Regions from separate parts of the Homo sapiens genome. Here region 1 is linked to region 2. A link means that fine-mapping ties the variant in region 2 to the expression of a gene that starts in the linked region. Tissue or cell type: subcutaneous fat. Region 2 holds a variant in brackets; the other region holds the start of a gene. All regions are shown on one strand. Distances are from middle to middle.

Region 1 (8,105 bases), 150 kb after region 2:
GAATGTCCTAGCACTCTGACCTTGAGCTGGGAGCAGCAAGGGTGGGGGAAATAGGCAAATACTCTTTGGAAACTCTCCAATCCATCTATAATCTGAATCTGGGAGGTCTCACCAGCAGTGGTGTGACTGCAAGCAGAGAGACCCCACGCCAACATTCCTTGGCGCTCCAGACCTGGGTTCCAAGACCACAGTGAGGGACTCGGCACTTCTGACTCCTAAATGCACAGACTGAAACCTGGACTTGCATGGCTTTTGCTTAAAACACCACTTGGAATAATGAGACGAGATTGTAGAGGCAGGGAAAGAATAATTAGGAATTTCTATGACCTGTGTATGTCCATGACAAGAACTGTATTTTCTCCTCACCTCCTCACTCTGAAAAACAGATTCAAAATAGAATCTCCCCAACTGTATGGGATGTATTAATTTACCAAAGCCTGGTCAGTCAATAACTATGAGTGCCTACTGTATAGAGAAAGTATGTCCATCTTTATAGTGAAGAGGAAGCAGGCCGCTGGAGTGGAAACAGCTCTGAATCGAGCAGTGGGAATCCTAGGGCCTAGTTCCATGTCTTCCACCAAATAGCCATGTGACCTTGGCTTTATCCAGCTTCAGTTTTCTCATCTGTAAATTAAATGTGCATGTGAGTGTTGGGATGGAATGGGGTTGGATGAGATGCTCTCCAAGGCTCCTTGCTTCTGGCTCTAATGTTCTGGAACTCCATGAACCCTTAAAGAGTTCAAAGAACACAGCGGCACCAAGCACAAAGGAATGATCCCCGAGAGAGGGTGGGGCTGTGTACCAGCTCTGTCTCCTTGGAATGTTGTGCTTGCACCTGCCCCATAGCACCCGAGGTCACAGGACCACCTGAAGCCCAGGAAGCATGTGGTAGAAGGATTCCAAGTACGATGGTGGTGGTTGAAGGCTGTAGCCTGAGCTGCCTTAAAGCATTAAGTTGCTACAGCCAGTAAAGGGCAAGAAGTGAGAAAGTCAGTGGTCCTGAGCCAGGTACCTTTGGCGCCCCCTACTGGACACCAAGGAGTCTGCTCCACCTTTAGGCTTCCACCGCCTCAGCACGGAAGCAAGGGAGCGCTTGAGCATGAGAGGCTGTCACAAGCTGTTTAGTAGGACTGCCTTCCCGGTTGGTGGTATTCTTTCTATAGAAGTCTATTGCACTCCCTAGAATTACACAGGCCATTGGTCCACAGATTTACAGGGGCACCCCTGCGCAGCCATAGGACGTCTTAACCAAACATCAAGGTACCAAGGAATAAACACCAGGGTTCAGAACACCAGGTGCAGCCCAGATGGAGAAGGGAAGAAAGAGCAACAAGCAGGTATTTCGCTGCACAAATCCCCAGTGGAGAGAAGGTCTTGGGAAATGCAGCAGAAAAATGTTGACTGCAGCAGACAACGATGGAGCTGGGGGTTGGGATATAGATTGATAGCACCCATAAAATATCTCCAGGCTGAAGCAGGTACCCTAGGAGTTTGAACATCCACCTACATTCAGGGATGGGATAAGGTGGAGGATTCAGGCTCAAATGAGCAGCCACAGAGCAGGTTCCCCAGACTCCCTACACACCGTTTCGACCTTTTCCAGAGTCCATTAGTACCCACCGGAAATGGAAATGTTCTAATTGTGGTCCTCTGTGCCATCATCAAGACCCTCAACTCCCTTCATTACCTCTTAAATTGACTTTAGGACCTACTGCCAGAAGGATGTTCTTAACCAAGTCAGAGAGAGAGAGAGAACATTTTCTCAAGAACCATGCTGGAACAGCCACCATGTTCCCACTTTTCCAGCCTCCACCTCTCCCCCATGGCTGAGGGTGAGGTACTCTGTGACTCTCAATGAGCTCTAATTCAGTCTTGGACATCTCCAGCCCCAAGTCGTCTGGGTTCCAAATCTCCGTCAATCGCTTATCTCTTCCCACATGAGTTCTCCCCTGACTCAAGAAAACACTATAGAACTGTCCCCTGTCCTGGGACCCTCTTCCCTTCTTTTCCACTTGGCTTCACGTGGAAAGTCCTGCACCCATCCCAGAAGACACCTCAAGTGCAACTCAAGAATGTGTCCTGTCAGGAGAACGGAAGCATCTCCTGGGATGTGCAGAAGCCACACTGGGTGCACCCACCAGCAGCAGCAGCGGCGGCGGCGGCGGCGGCGGCGGCGGCGGCGGCGGCAGCAGCAGCAATATTCATTAGTCATTCCTGGAGGAAGCCCCCCCAGCTCTCAACCCTAGGAGAATTTCCCCGCCACTCTGGGAGGCTTCCATCCAGGCTGGGATGACTTTGGATTCTTGAGTTGCTTTCTGCAGAAGCGGGACTAACCAGGGCTCCCAACTACTGTACTGCAAAGAAGCGCGCTGCATTGCTGGGCATGCCCCCAAGCCCGGCCTGGCTGCCCCATCAAAGCCTCCAAGTGCCCCCACGGGGTCGAGGAGGACTCAGGGTTCCCCTGGAATGCCTGAAGCCGGCTTGCCTCAGGCAGCCTGAAGGGAAGACCACACCTCGTCCAGCATAAGGCGGCTAGCAGCTACGCCGCGCGCGGGGCTGGCTCCCGGAGCTCTCTGCCACCCAGCGCTGTGCCCGGGAACTCGGCTTCCCAGGGGAGGAAGAGCCAGCCCGCGGGGCTCTTCCCCAGCCTGGAAGCGTAGGCACTCGGCCGAGGCCAGTGGCTTCCCAGGCCCGGGTCTCAGCCTGGCTGACTGGGAGACTCTCCCGATAGCCCGGCACATCCCTCCTCACCCGCTCCGCCCCCTCCAGGCCCCAGAGGCCCCCTCCCCTGACAGCTGACCTCCAGTGCGCCCCCAACACTTTCTCTGCCAGCTGCTGGCTGTCGCCCCCACACATCAGCTCCCACCTCTCCGCCACCTCCAACCCGGCCGCCGCCTCACCCCCAGCCCGCGGGGGAGGCTCCGCGCGCCAATCGAGTCCAGCGCCTCCCAGCAAGTTAGGAGCGAAGCCGCCGCCTTCGCGATCCCAGTCTTCCCGGGTTCCCGGGCGGCGTCCCCGCCACCCTTGCGGGCGGATCCGGGGGGGCGCGCAGAGCTGGAGAAACTTTCTCCGCCTTAGGGTGGGGGGCACCGGTGCAGATACTCACGCCGGGGTCAGCGCTCGGAGCCATCCTCCCGCTCTCGGCCCCGCCGCCTAGGGGCGTGGGAAGCGGGCGCTCGCTGCCGCCTCTGCCGCCGGCGCCGCCGCCTGCTTGCTCCCAGCCCCGGTCCCGGGCTGGCCTCGAGCCTCCCGCCCCGACGCCGCGCGCTCGCTTTATACAACTCCACTCGAGCGCGCCCGGTCTTATGTAAAGGCTGGCGGAGGCCCGCAGCCAATGGCGCGGCAGCTGGAGCCGGGGGCCCGGGGTGGGGGGCGCCGGCGCGGCCAATCGCGGCCCCGAGAGCCCGGAGAGCCGGGCGTGGGGAGGGAGCGCCTCCCCGCGCTGATTTAGGAGCCGGGATTGCGGTGGCAGCAGCCGGCAGCCAGGCTGGCCCGGCGCGGCGCGGCGGCCACTGGGGTGGGCGGCGGCGAAGGCGGCGGCGAGGGCGGGCGCCCCCCGCGCCCCGCCACTGCGTCGCGTAACCTTCAGGCGGCAGCGAGGCCTGGCGAGGAGGGGAGAGGGCGCCTGGCTGGGCGCTGGGGGCCCCAGGCCGGAGGGAAGCGAGGGTCCCTCGGGAGGCAGCGCAGGGAAGGAACGCGAAGGGGGAGGGGAGGGCGGCGAGCCCCAGGACCCCGCGGCCACCCCTGCGCGCAGGACCGAGGGTGGAGGCGGGAGCGGCTGCACTGCCTTCCCATTTCCCCCCAGGATAGCGATCTGGCGTCGCCGGGCCGGGCCAAAGCGGCCGAGCGAGCCGCGCTGATGGCGAGATTTCGACTACGGAGCTAGAGCCGAGCCGATCTTTATCCAGCCTGGGGACGTGTCCGAGCACCTCCCGGGGACTGCTCAGTATGGAGAGCAGGGCTCCGCGACGGCCCCCGCAGGCGGGGAGCGGGCGAGCGCAGCTCGGAGATCAGGCGCGCAGAGGCCCAGGCGGCTGCGGGCAGCGCCGCTTCTACCCCACCCCGTCCCCACCAGCAGTGCCCCCACCCCATCCCACCTAGTCCCTACCCCAGCAGTGGCCGAGTCGGGCCTGGCCCACCCGCTCCTGCCGCCTGCGTCCTACTAGCCTCCCTCACCGCTTTGATCACAGGTACTGCCCGCCTCTCCTCGCCCCCAACCCGCTGCCTTGGTGGTGGTGGGGGGATGGTTTCTGCCTCTCTGGACCAGGGGAATGGGGGTGCTAAGCGCCAGAAAAACACACTTGATCAGCAATGCTCAAAATACCCCTGTTCAGGCAGGAAACTGGCCTTGGTGGGTCACACTCTGAAGGCAAATCCTTTATTTTACGCCTAGAATAGAGCCTGGCACATAGTAGGCGCTCAGTGTTTATTGAATGAATTCTGAGCTTCCATGAGTGAGGTCTTTGGGTTTCTGAAAGCCAGGTAAAGGGGCCACAGAAGAGAAAGACTTGGGAATCCACCATCGGAGAGGGAAGGAGCTAGGACTGTTTTCCCATCCGTTGACGCTTTTGTGACCATCACCCACTAGTCTGGCTTCTGGGCCCTTGACTCTTAGAATGATTTGAATGTGTTCTTTTATAGAGGGCCACACATCCAGCCTCTGGCCCCTGTTATCCACAGATTTTGAGCAGAACTACCAGGACCTAGTCTGGGCTCTGTTTTCAGGTCTCTGTGATCTTCCTCTGAAAAGAAATAGCTAGGCACAGACAAACTTTCTGGCTTTTTGAGCCCCCATCAAGCCTGTAAGGTTGTGGGCCCCTTTGAAAATCTGGCAAAAATTACTGAATCATTTTTCTAGAAAAATATACAAACACACACATTTACACACACACACACACACACACACACACACACACACACACACACCTTGAGTATACTTTCAGGATCATTAGGAACCCTGAGTCTCTTGGGGCTCGGTCCAATGTCAACCTGTTTCTTCAGGGGTCTAGGACAGTAGTTTATAATCACCCTCCTTTTGGGGATCACAGACCCTTTAGAACCTTTCAAGAATCTCATAAATGTTATGGATCTGTTGCTTATAAAAATGCTCACTCACATACACACATGTTGACATGCAACTTTAGGAGGGTTCGTGGATCATTAAAACTTAATCTAGGGCCCTGATTAAGAACCTTCATCTATCGGCAAATAGACTCTGCCCCCAAGGCCATATCTGATCCCCAGCTCTCTGCATAAGGAGTCCAGTTGGCTCTGCACCCTGCTGGAACATGCCACCACCTTGTTCTGAGGGCATCTGAGTCATCTGGCCAAGGCTCTGGCACCTGAGAGACTGTCTCCACACTTTCTCTGCATCTTGGTCCCCGCCACCCTCTTAATGTGGAAATAAGTTGCAGGTTGTCATATTATGTCTGATCTATGAGCATTCCTTAGCCAGAAACTCCAACTCAGGGAGACAGCAAGTGACTGGTAATTAACCAGTTTCACTCAATCCCAAACATCTGAGCACACCTTTCTTGGTTTTTGTTCTCACCTCTCTCTTCTCCGGTGAAGCTGTGCACAGCAGCCCCAGCTGTAGCGCCTCACCTCACCCAGACCCGACAGATTTAGTAACCAGCACGGTAATTATCAGCATTAGCCAACCAGATGTGAATAGGTGCTCTGTGCAAAATAACTCTGTAATAATCTCACACTTTCCTGCAGCTAGCCAGGTAAGGTTACAACAGACCAAAGGTGCTAGGGAAGGACAGAAAAATGCAGGAAATGATGGAGATGTTCCAGCCAGGAAGTGCTCCAGGGAATACAATCTGGCTTCAGCACTTGAACTTGTGAGGGTTTAGCCCAGTGGGCCAGGCAGTCCTGGTTGGAAAATTTCTCATTTCTCTGATGTCCTCGATGTCCATTTGCTCAGTTCATGTCAGTGTCTGCTCAGAGCTCCAGCCCTTCCCCACCCCCAATCCCGTGAGAGACCTCTTGTCCTCCCACATTGCCCAAACACAGCTTTCTTGAGGCACATGCACACGGTTATAGACTGAATTGTGCCTCTCCGGACCAAATTCACATAGTGAAGCCCTAACCCTTAGTGTGACTGCATTTGGAGATAAGGCCTTTAAAGGGGCAATTAAGGCAAAATGAGATCATAAGGGTGGACCCTAATTCAATAGGACTAGTGTCCTCGTAAGAAGAGAGAGAGATACCAGAGATCTCCCATTTCTCTCTGTGCATCCTCAGGAGAAAGCCTGCCTGAGTAACAGGAGGAGGCCATCTGCAAGCCAGGAGCAGGGCCTCTGCAGAAACCAGACCTGCCAGCACCTTGATCTGGGACTTCCAGGCTCCAGAACTGTGAGAACATTAACTTCTGTGGTTAAGCTCCACGTCTGTGGTATTGGCTATGGCAGTCTGAGCTGACTAATACACACATTTTCAGCACACCCTTACCCCATGCATCTTGTTCAGGCTCCAGTCCTTTGACCCCAGTGAAGTTGTTTTTTCTTCAGAGTGTTCCCCCACAGACTTCTTCATTCTTACCTGGGGAACGTGCTTAAATTGTTTTCTCATCTGTTCATACCCAAACCAAGTCTTCCTTCCTGCGCCACCTTCCAAAACTGCCCTGGCCAGCAGTTTTCAGCTCTCCTGCAGGTCTACACCATCTTATCACCTGTGATGCACATTAGCTTTTTTTCACTCAGTGATACTTGGCCTCCCTATCAGAATATGAGCCCCTTGAAGTCCAGAGTTTGTACCTTGCAGTTGACTACCTCACAGAACCCAGCATGAAACTGGGCACAGAGTGAACACACATTAGATATTTGCTGAGTTATTCCAATTAAACCTATTTACTTAAAAATACTATTAAAGCTGTACAGTACTTCATTTTCTAAAAACTCAAGATGTATTGTGTGTGTTAGTCATCATCAACATCACTGGAGCAGGAGTTCTCAGGAGCTAGTTTTCTTCTAAAGTCCAGGATCAGAGAGGTTGGACTTTACGCAAGTTGCTAACAGTCATGCAACAAGTTAAGGACAGGACAAAAACTGTAGGAAACACTGAAGACAACCTCCAGACCCCATGTCCTTTCATTGACAAATGACTTTGTTAATTCTCTCTCTACATTAGAAGATTACTTGGCTATCTTCTCTCTCTCCGGGTGAGAAGTCAAGACACCAGATCTTAGAGATGCTTCTGTCCCAAGAGTTCTGTCACAGGAGAACAGAGAGGCTGGTACAGTTCCTCACACCCTTATCTGAAGCCCTTGAGGCCAGAGGCATTTTAGAATTCAGAAAGGCACCATACATAAACATTCTCAGTGAAGCTTTGAGCAGCATATTGAAATCAGACACATTAATATTTCTGCAATGAAATATATGAAGTTTACACTAAGCAGGTGTGAGGATAAAGTAACTTCACATCAGTTTAGGTCAGATTTTGCTACCAGATGAGTCTTGGCATCAAACTTGCAAAACAAAAATCCTTTTGACTTTCAGAGATTTGGGGATTTGGAATTGTAGATAAGGGATTGTGTATTTTAGGCTTGGTTGTCTCAAAAGAAATGAATCTTTTTGTAAGGGGGTGGAAAAACAGCAATAGTTGAAAATGGGAAACCACAAACTGTGAAAGAAATGAGGAGCTAAAGGGGGTATGAGGAAATAACCCCTTCTCAAACCAAGTCGTATGGAGGGGTCGTCCCTTTTTCCCAAGGAGTACACATTTATCACATGGCCGTTGGGTTTCAGATGCACTTGTGGCTTGTAAGAGGCAGATGCATAGGATGGACTTTCAAGGGGAGGTAGGTTAGGGGTAAAGTTGGACAGGAACTCTTTTAGAGAAGCCACAAACCCTGGGGGATGGTTCAGTCAGGGCCAGAGCCAGAGCCATCACAGATGCAGAAAGGAGTCTTCCAGATGGCCAGAGAGTTTGTTCAGAAGACCTTGAGCTGTGAGCGCATGCTGCAGGGAAACTCTGCAGGCAGAGCAGCCCCAGGAAAGGGATGCTGGAAGAAGGAGGACATGATGGAATCCTGGGGAAGTCTGGTTAGAAACTTTCGAGGCTGTGGGGCAGGGGGAAGCCTGGAGGTAACGATGCAAGCA
Region 2 (8,105 bases):
CTACTGGCCTATGGCTGGGGCCCCACTCACCCACGCAGGCTGTGCCATCCTCGTTGGGCTCGTAGCCCCGACTGCACTTCTTGTTGGTCCGGCACCTGTAGCTTCCATAGGTGTTGACACATACGGGCTTGTCTCGAGGGCACACGAATGGGAACTGGATGCATTCATTGGTGTCTGCAAGGCGAGGGGAACCACTCACCATGAAGGTGTGGGGCAGCAAGTACCAGCCCAGGCTCTGCCTGCCTATACACTGTCTGGCTTTGGGAATGTGCCTTCCTCGCAGAGCCTCAGTTTCCCTGCTTCAGTTCCCTTGGCTGGCTCCTCCTGTACTTGGTCTCTACATGCTGGGGGCAGGGGGTGGGCACTCAGGCTTGGTCCTGGGTCCTCTCTTCTGTCTACTACAATCGTTCTAGGTGATCTCTTCATGCATGGATGATTCCGAAAGTTCTATCTCCAGTCACAACCTCTCCCCGTGGCTCCAGACTCACGAATACAATAACCCATGACCTACTTGACAGCTCCACTTGGATGTCTAAGATGCACCTCATGCTTAATATGTCCAAAATAGAACTCCAGATTCTGCCCTGCCCTGCCCATATTCTGGCCCTCTGTTCTGTCTTCTCTAGCTCAATCAACACCCCCATCATCAATCAGCTGCTCAAGGGGAAATCAGAGCGACCCCTGATTTCTCCGTCTTTCTTGCCCCCTGTGCAATTTCACAGCAGAGCCTGTCCACTCTGCCCCGCAGTCCACCAGTCCACCTCTCTCTGTCACCTCTTTCTCATTCCTCTGCCACCACCCAATTTCCTGCCATCGTGACCTCTTGCCTGGATTTCTGCAGCTGCCTCCTCACAGAATACCTGGCTTCCCCTCTTCCCTCCAATCCACTCTGCAATTCAGCAGCTGGAGGGAGCCTTTAAAAATGTGAATCACATCATGTCACTCCCCAGTTTAGCTTCTAAGGCTCCTAAGAGCAAAATTCAGACTCCCTACAGGGGCCTCATGGACTCTCCATCATCTCCAGGCCATACTGGCATCCCTCCTGCTCCTTCAACACACAAAGCCTTTGTCCTGTCTCCCGCTTTTCACTCCTGCCCTTCCCTCAACTCTTTCTGGGCCTAGATCCTTCTCATCCTTCAGGTCTCAGCTCAGAGTCTTCCCCCCGAGGCCCTCCCTGACCACTCTCTCTGGAACAGTCTCCAGGGAGCACCTTGCTCAGAGGGTTCTGAAATCATCTTGTCCAGGTGTGTGGTCATGCGTTCAGGGTCTGTCTCCCTCCACTAGAATGGATGCCCCTCTTGTGGAGGCGCGGGGGTGGCACTTGGCCTACATCCCCAGCTCCCAGCATGACACTTGCTGTGTACGAGGCACATAACTGCCTGTTGGGCGATGAAAAGGAAGAGGAGGCTGATCTCAAAGGGTCCTTCCTGCAGGCAGAGAAGACTCTGGAATTTCTATGCACCTGCACTATGTGTTTGGAGTGGGGCTGGGTGGGCATGTGGAGAGTGTAGGGGAGTCATTTCCTCCTCCAGCCACCCTTGGCACCACTGCTCCTCCACCTCCCCACCTGTGCTCCTTTGTTCAGACAGTGCCCCCCACCAGAACCATGTCTCCCCTCTCTGTGACTGCCGAACTGCTCCTCATTCCTCAGGGCCCAGCTTGGACCTCACTTTCTCTAGGGCACCTTCTAGGACCCTCCCTAGGCTGGTTTAGGGCCCCTGCTTTGTCATCTCCAAGCCCCTGCCCTCCCCCATCTGGGCCCTGATCACACTGTGTGGTCGACAGCTGTTTACTTTTGTGGCTCTCCATTGGTTTTCAGCTCCTGAGAGTGGTATCTGTCTTGTTTACTCCTGTATCTCAGTAGCAAAGGGTTAATGAGCAGCTGCAGAGTAGACTTGGGAAGAATGCTGGATGAGGGTTCAAGGAAGGAGGGATCCTTGGCCTGACCCCTCCTTGCTGGTCACTGGGATGGAAAGTGTTGGGGGTGAAGGTCTCCTGGACACTGAACTTCTAGGCTGCCCCTTCCCATTCCAGGCTCTTGGGGACTTTCAGAAGGTTCTTGGACCGTCAAGGAGCTGCCATCCTGGTAGTGCTGCAGCTACCTGCCTGCCCCAGTACTGCACCAGGCTGCAGTCTCCGTTCCACACTGTGACCACACTCCATACACTATTTTGCCCCAATGCCCTTGGCAATGCACACCCTTGCCTGCCAGCCCCCTTGCTTGCTGCTCCACATGGACTTGCTGGCCATGGCATGTGGCTATTCCCCCTGTGCCAGGTTGGTGGTGTGTCTCCTTCCCATCTGCAGTTTCTCGGTACTCATGGCAGGAAAACACTGCCAGTTTCCAGAACCGCAGTGATTCAGCCTGTGGGTCACTAATATCACTCCCACCCTGGTGAGTCATGTGGTGGTTGTCTTGGCATCTGGAGTCCCAGGACAAACAACACCCTCCCCTGTCCTCCTTTCTGCCCCTTGCTTGCACCCTGGACCTTGGCATGAGTCAGGCGGGCATTCCCCAGGGAGATTCCGGCCTCTACCCCATGCCCTGGTGACTGAAGGCAACTCACCCATGCAATGGCCATTTTCCTGCTGGGAGAATCCTTGGCCACACTGTAAGGTGGGCAGAAGCAGAGACATGAGTGAGTTGAGAAGGTCCCATCCCAGGTTCCCTCCTAGTCACAGCCACAGAGTAGTTGTCACCCTAACCACAGTGTGAGGCATGCTCTGAGCTCTGGGCCTGGGGGGAGCCCCCTCCCTTGTAAGACCCTTCCTTTGCGCTGAGAACAGAAGGCTGGCGGGAAGGCCATGAATGGATACGGTTCAGACTCTTGCTCATTTCCCTGTGCAAAGGATCCACACGAGCTGGGACGTCTAACAGAACCTGTCCCTTCTGTAGCATCACCCTGTGACTGAGGCTGGGTCTGTCAGGGCAAAGTGTAATGAGGGCTGGGAGATGCTTTTTGAGGTGTCTGCTCACTGCCCACATTCACTTCTCCAAGAACCTCTCCCTCACACGGGTGGGTGCCTGCAGCCATGCTTGTGTCCCACCTCTCTGGCCAGGGCTGATGGGTGGACATCCTAGCAGGAGGGAAGACTCAAGGCTTTGCAGCAAGAATTTGAACAAATTGACTCAGAGACTTAAGAGTTGGGAGCCGGCCCTGCCAGGCTGTGGAGGCTCTACCATGCCCATATGGGGGTCTCAGAGACAGCAGCCTGGGGTGGGGCAGGGGACTAAAAACGTAACACACATGACACAAAATGTCAATCAACCGTACTGATGAATGAGGTGGGTGGATGGGGATTGTTGGGGAAGAGGGGCCCCTCTCCTCCCAAAGCCAGTGCACTGACAAAGGTCCTTGAGCTCCTAGGGCTGAGGCCATCAAGCTGCCAGTTTCTACTCATCCTGAGCTTCCCTGAGTTTTATGAGTGATCCTCCTTATAAGCCCCCTTCATTTGTGTCAGTTTCAGTGGGTTCCTGTTAATCGCCACCAAGTGAACCCCATCAGAGTTGGAACGACACTGCTGAGATGGGTCCAGAGCTGCTCCTCAAAGAGCCTCCAGAAAACCTGGTGCAGGCTCTGAGCCCCACCCTAGGGCAATAGGAGGTCTTGTCAGAGACTCAGAAAGAACCAGGAGGGCAGCAACAGACCTGGGGTCATTTTAAAACTTTGCTCACAACTGGCTGTACAGCCTTGGTGGGCCTTGGTGGATTTCCTCTCTTAACCTCAGTTTTCTTCCTCTGTAAAATGGGTGCAAAAATGCTTGCCCTGCCAATACACCAGGGATTCTTTGAGAAGCAGAAGAGATGTGGGTGTGATAGTGTTGTGCAAACTACAAATGGAGGGATCAGTATGAAGCCTTCGCTTTGCCAAGATTTCCATCACTCTAGAGGCTGAGTTTGCAGATTCCTGGGAACCCAGCTTCAGCCCATGGGGTTGTGGGTGGTGCCCGCTTTTCTGGCTATGAGGCCCAGATGCCTTTGCCCACCTCCAGTGGGGCTGGGTCCTGAAGTGTGTCCTCATCCCGGGGGTAGAGGATCTCCAGCACTGAGTTCATCTCCCCGCTGGCCACGTTCCGGCTCACCATCTTGCCATCTGGCCACGTCACCTCCACACTGCTGGCTTCATCCTTCCCTGAGGGGCAGAAGGAGAGAGCATCAGCAGCAGAGGAGAGCAGGAGGCTCTCAGCGGAAGCATCAGCATCAACTAATTCATCCATTGAATAAAAGCATGAATTGAGCACTGTTCTAAGTGCTAGGGAAATGGTGAACAAGACAGATTTGAGGTCCCTCCTCTCTGGAGCAATGCTGTCCAATAGACCTGTCTGTCTGCAAGGACAGAAATGT[C/T]CTGCATCTGTGCTGTCCAGTACAGTAGCCACTGGTAACATGTGGCTGTTGAGCACTTGAAGTGGGACTCACGTGATTGAAGAGGTGAATTTTCAATTTTATTTAACTCTAATTAATTTAAATTTAATGGCCACACATGGCTGGTGGCTGCCATGTTGGATAGTGCAGCTCTTGAACTCACGTTCTAGCAGACAGGCCAAGCATCAGGAGGCTGTACTGGAGGATACAGTAAGGCCTGTGATAAGCAGGTTGTCTTTGGAGTCTGGCATTCAAATCATGGCTCTACCCCTTACCTGGTATGTTGGAAAGAGCATGGTGGGAAGTGGGTGGGAGACCTGGGGACAAATCCCAGCTGTGCAGCTAACTGGCTTTGTTATCCCAGGAATGCTTCTTGTGTTTCTATTTATTGAGCTCTGCTAAGGGCCAGGCTCTCTCTTGTCACTGGGGATGCCCCTGTTCTCATGGAGTTCCCAGTCCAGTTGGGGAGACAAGCAAACAGATGAACAAATAAATAATGCCAGATATTGACAAAAGTAGGGCAAGTAGGTAAGGAGGAGCTGGGGGTTGCCAGGGCCTTGTCTAGTCAGGTGGTCAGGGACAGCCTCTTAGGGAGGCGGCATTTGCACTGAGCTCTACATAATAACTTGGAAAAAGAGCTGGGCATGGTGGCTCATGCCTGGAATCCCAGCTACTCAGGAGGATGAGGCAGAAGTATTGGCTGAGCCCAGGACTTCAAGGCCAGCCTGGGCAACATAGTGAGACCCTGTTTCTGAAAAAAATAAAAACAAACAAAAAACAACTTAGAAAAGATGGAGTGATAAAGAGATGGCAGGTGGAGGACAGGGGAGAAAGACCATTCTACAAATCTAAGATGCTTACAGAAGATGATGGGAACCTCAGAGATATTCACAGTGAATCCATTTGCACACAACCCTAAAGCAACGTGCCACATCATTGGTGGAAAGCAGGCTGAAAAGATTTGTCAGATGTTTAGGCACTGTCAAAGCAGGCCCCAGCTCCCCGCGTAAGGAAACAGGCCCGTCACTGTGGCAAGGTCAGGCTAATGGTGATGGATTGGGGTGGGGAGGAGGCGGGGGCTGGGCCTCACCTTCCAGGAGAGGCTGCTCTCAGGTCAGCCCCTGGGAAGGAGAGCTGTGCCCAGCACAGACAGGGGGAGAACACAGCCCACTCTATCACCCATCAGGGCTGAGCAGATGTGGGGACACGGGGTCCTGCAGGGGGACCTGAAGTCAATACACTCCCCCAAACACCATTCCCAGGCTAAATAATATATCACCCACATATATGCACCATTATTTTTCCTAATATATGTAGATACTGTTAGAAAACAAATTAAACTTAAAATTGCTGTTGAATGTATATTCGCATTTGGTCATTACTATCCACCAATGAATTTTACAATGATAGCTACTATGGGGTGGACGGTAGTTGGCAAAATGTCTTGATGTATAAAAGGGGTTCCCATATTTTAGAAAAGGAGGTTTGGAGGCCACATGCAGACTTGGAGGAGAATCTCTGTGTAGACTTCCTGTAGAGACCACTGTGGGGCATGGAGGAAGGGAGCCGGGTGCTGGGGGGAGGACCCATGATGAGGGAGGTTCCAGAGGGAGTTACGCCTTGTGAGCCACATCCCCCAGCTTCTAGATCCTTCCCATGTTTGGTCTCCTTTTGCTCTCTCACCCTGGCCTCCAGGGGAGTATCACTGGAACATCCCAGCCTTGCTGCTGCCATGCTGTGAGCCTATGAGGGCCAGGACCAGAGCTACACTCTGAAGAGTCCATGGAGAGGCAGCCGCTGCCCTCATGGGCACAGCAGGCAGCAGCAACGGAGAGGCTCGGAGACAGAGGCTCATCCTCACACACTGAGTTCCCCTCCCACACAGCTCAGTTTCTCTTCCCACAGGGAAATCCTCTCTTTCCAGGCCCAACCTTACCGTTCTGGGTTTTGCTTTATCAAGCAAGAAATTATTTCTCATCACTCCCTCAATCTACAAGAATTCCTTCTGCAGAAGCGGGGTGAAAATGGGACTGGGGAGTGCCAACTACAGATTTTTTTTTCTTTTTTCTTTTTTTTTTTTTGAGATAGTATCTCAATCTGTCACCCAGGCTGGAGTGTGGTGGTGGGATCTCAGCTCACTGCAACCTCCCCCTCCCAGGTTGAAGCCATTCTCCTGCCTCAGCCTCCTGAGTAGTTGGGATTACAGGCATGTACCACCGCGCCTGGCTAATTTTTGTATTTTTAGTAGAGACAGGGTTTCGCCATGCTGGCCAGGCTGATCTCAAACTCCTGACCTCAAGTGATCCACCCACCTCAGCTTCTTAAAGTGTTGGGATTACAGACGTGACCCACCACACCCGGCCAGATTTCTTTTTTTTTTTTTCTAATTTGAAGTAGAATCTTGAGGCGCAAGAGATTTGGCATTTTCAGGGTGTACAGTTCCCAAGTTAAGTGGCACATATAAAAGGTAAATATTTGCCATTAAAAGAAGGAGACAAAGAACAGCAAATGTTTCTTACCTAAGCCTGCAGAACAGCTACATGAATGTGTTTTCCAGACTGACTGAAGGGCCACAAAGGACCCAAAAGAGTCACGGAATATTCATAGACAATCACAGATTTGCATGTGGTACTTGCGGCACTTAGGTTTTTTTTTTTTTTTTTTCTGTTTTTATTTTGAGATGGAGTTTTGCTCTTGTTGCCCAGGCTGGAGTGCAGTGGTGGGATCTCAGTTCACCACAACCTCCGCCTCCCAGGTTCAAGCAATTTTTCTGCCTAAAGCTTTCCCGAGTAGCTGGGATTACAGGCACCTGCCACCACACCTGGCTAATTTTGTATTTTTAGTAGAAATGGGGTTTCTCCATGTTGGTCAGGCTGGTCTCGAACTCCTGACCTCAGGTGATCCACCCAGCCTCGGCCTCCCAAAGTGCTGGGATTATAGGCGTGAGTCACCACCACCAGCGGGACTTAGTTTTGAGTACTGCTTCCGCAGCTTCCTCCAGACCCAGACGTGGTGCAGGGGGCCTGGGGCTATGAGATAAGCAGGCCTCAGAAAGCACAACCAGCAGGACTCCCTCCTCTGCCACTGTGTTTTGCTAACTTGGGCATCCTCTCTGGGCCTCAGCTACTTCATCTGTAAGATGGGGGTGCTGGCCAACAGCCTTACCACTCCTAGGAAGCACAGCCTTTCTACCCTGGAGCAGGAGTCCTGGCCTGCTGTTAACCATTCACCTCAGCATCCCTGGCACCATCGGCTCTTGGTCATGGGGTCTCCCTACAGTTTCCAAAGGGCTTTCAGGTGTTGGTAACAACAGTGAACACTGACAGCGTGCCCCAAGCTGTACCAAGTGCTTTATGATGCTAACGCATCGAAACTTCACATCTCCACGAGGAAGGTGCCAGTGTTATCATTTCTGCCTTAGAGATGAGAAGGTGGAGCCATGGACAGATGCAGTGAATCGCCCAGTTGCCCAGCAGAGGTCCGAGAGATCCCAGAGCCGGTATCTACTGTGCCCCTGTTACACTGCCCACCCTATCCCACGCCCAGCAGCCACCATATACCAAGCTTTGTGCAGGGATTTGGGATTCAACAGAGAATGAGACAGACCCAGGCCCCATTCTCATGATTCCCATGGGAGCGATGAATACAAGTGATTATATTATAAGCTGGGAAAGTGCCACAACAGCACTGTTACCATGTGGTGAGAGAGATGGGTCATTTCATTTGGGTATTGCAGGAGGAG

What was found. PIP is the estimated chance that this variant, and not a neighbour inherited with it, causes the effect.
Region 1: it holds the start of CRTAC1, and the variant in region 2 is fine-mapped to the expression of CRTAC1 in subcutaneous fat (GTEx, PIP 0.98).

What each region holds. Positions count from the first base shown.
Region 1 is chr10:98,027,343-98,035,447 of GRCh38, forward strand. CRTAC1 (cartilage acidic protein 1) reads right to left here and starts at 3,279. Exons shown (of 15, transcript NM_018058.7): 1 at 3,107-3,279. The coding sequence starts at 3,130.
Region 2 is chr10:97,880,219-97,888,323 of GRCh38, forward strand. It overlaps CRTAC1 (cartilage acidic protein 1), which reads right to left. Exons shown (of 15, transcript NM_018058.7): 12 at 3,988-4,133; 13 at 2,568-2,610; 14 at 31-174. Among named protein-coding and RNA genes, the nearest start is that of MIR3085, 8.4 kb to the left of the region's middle. RefSeq lists enhancers at 1,786-2,985, 7,982-8,105 and a silencer at 2,274-2,568. The variant C/T (reference allele first, on the strand shown) is at 4,346.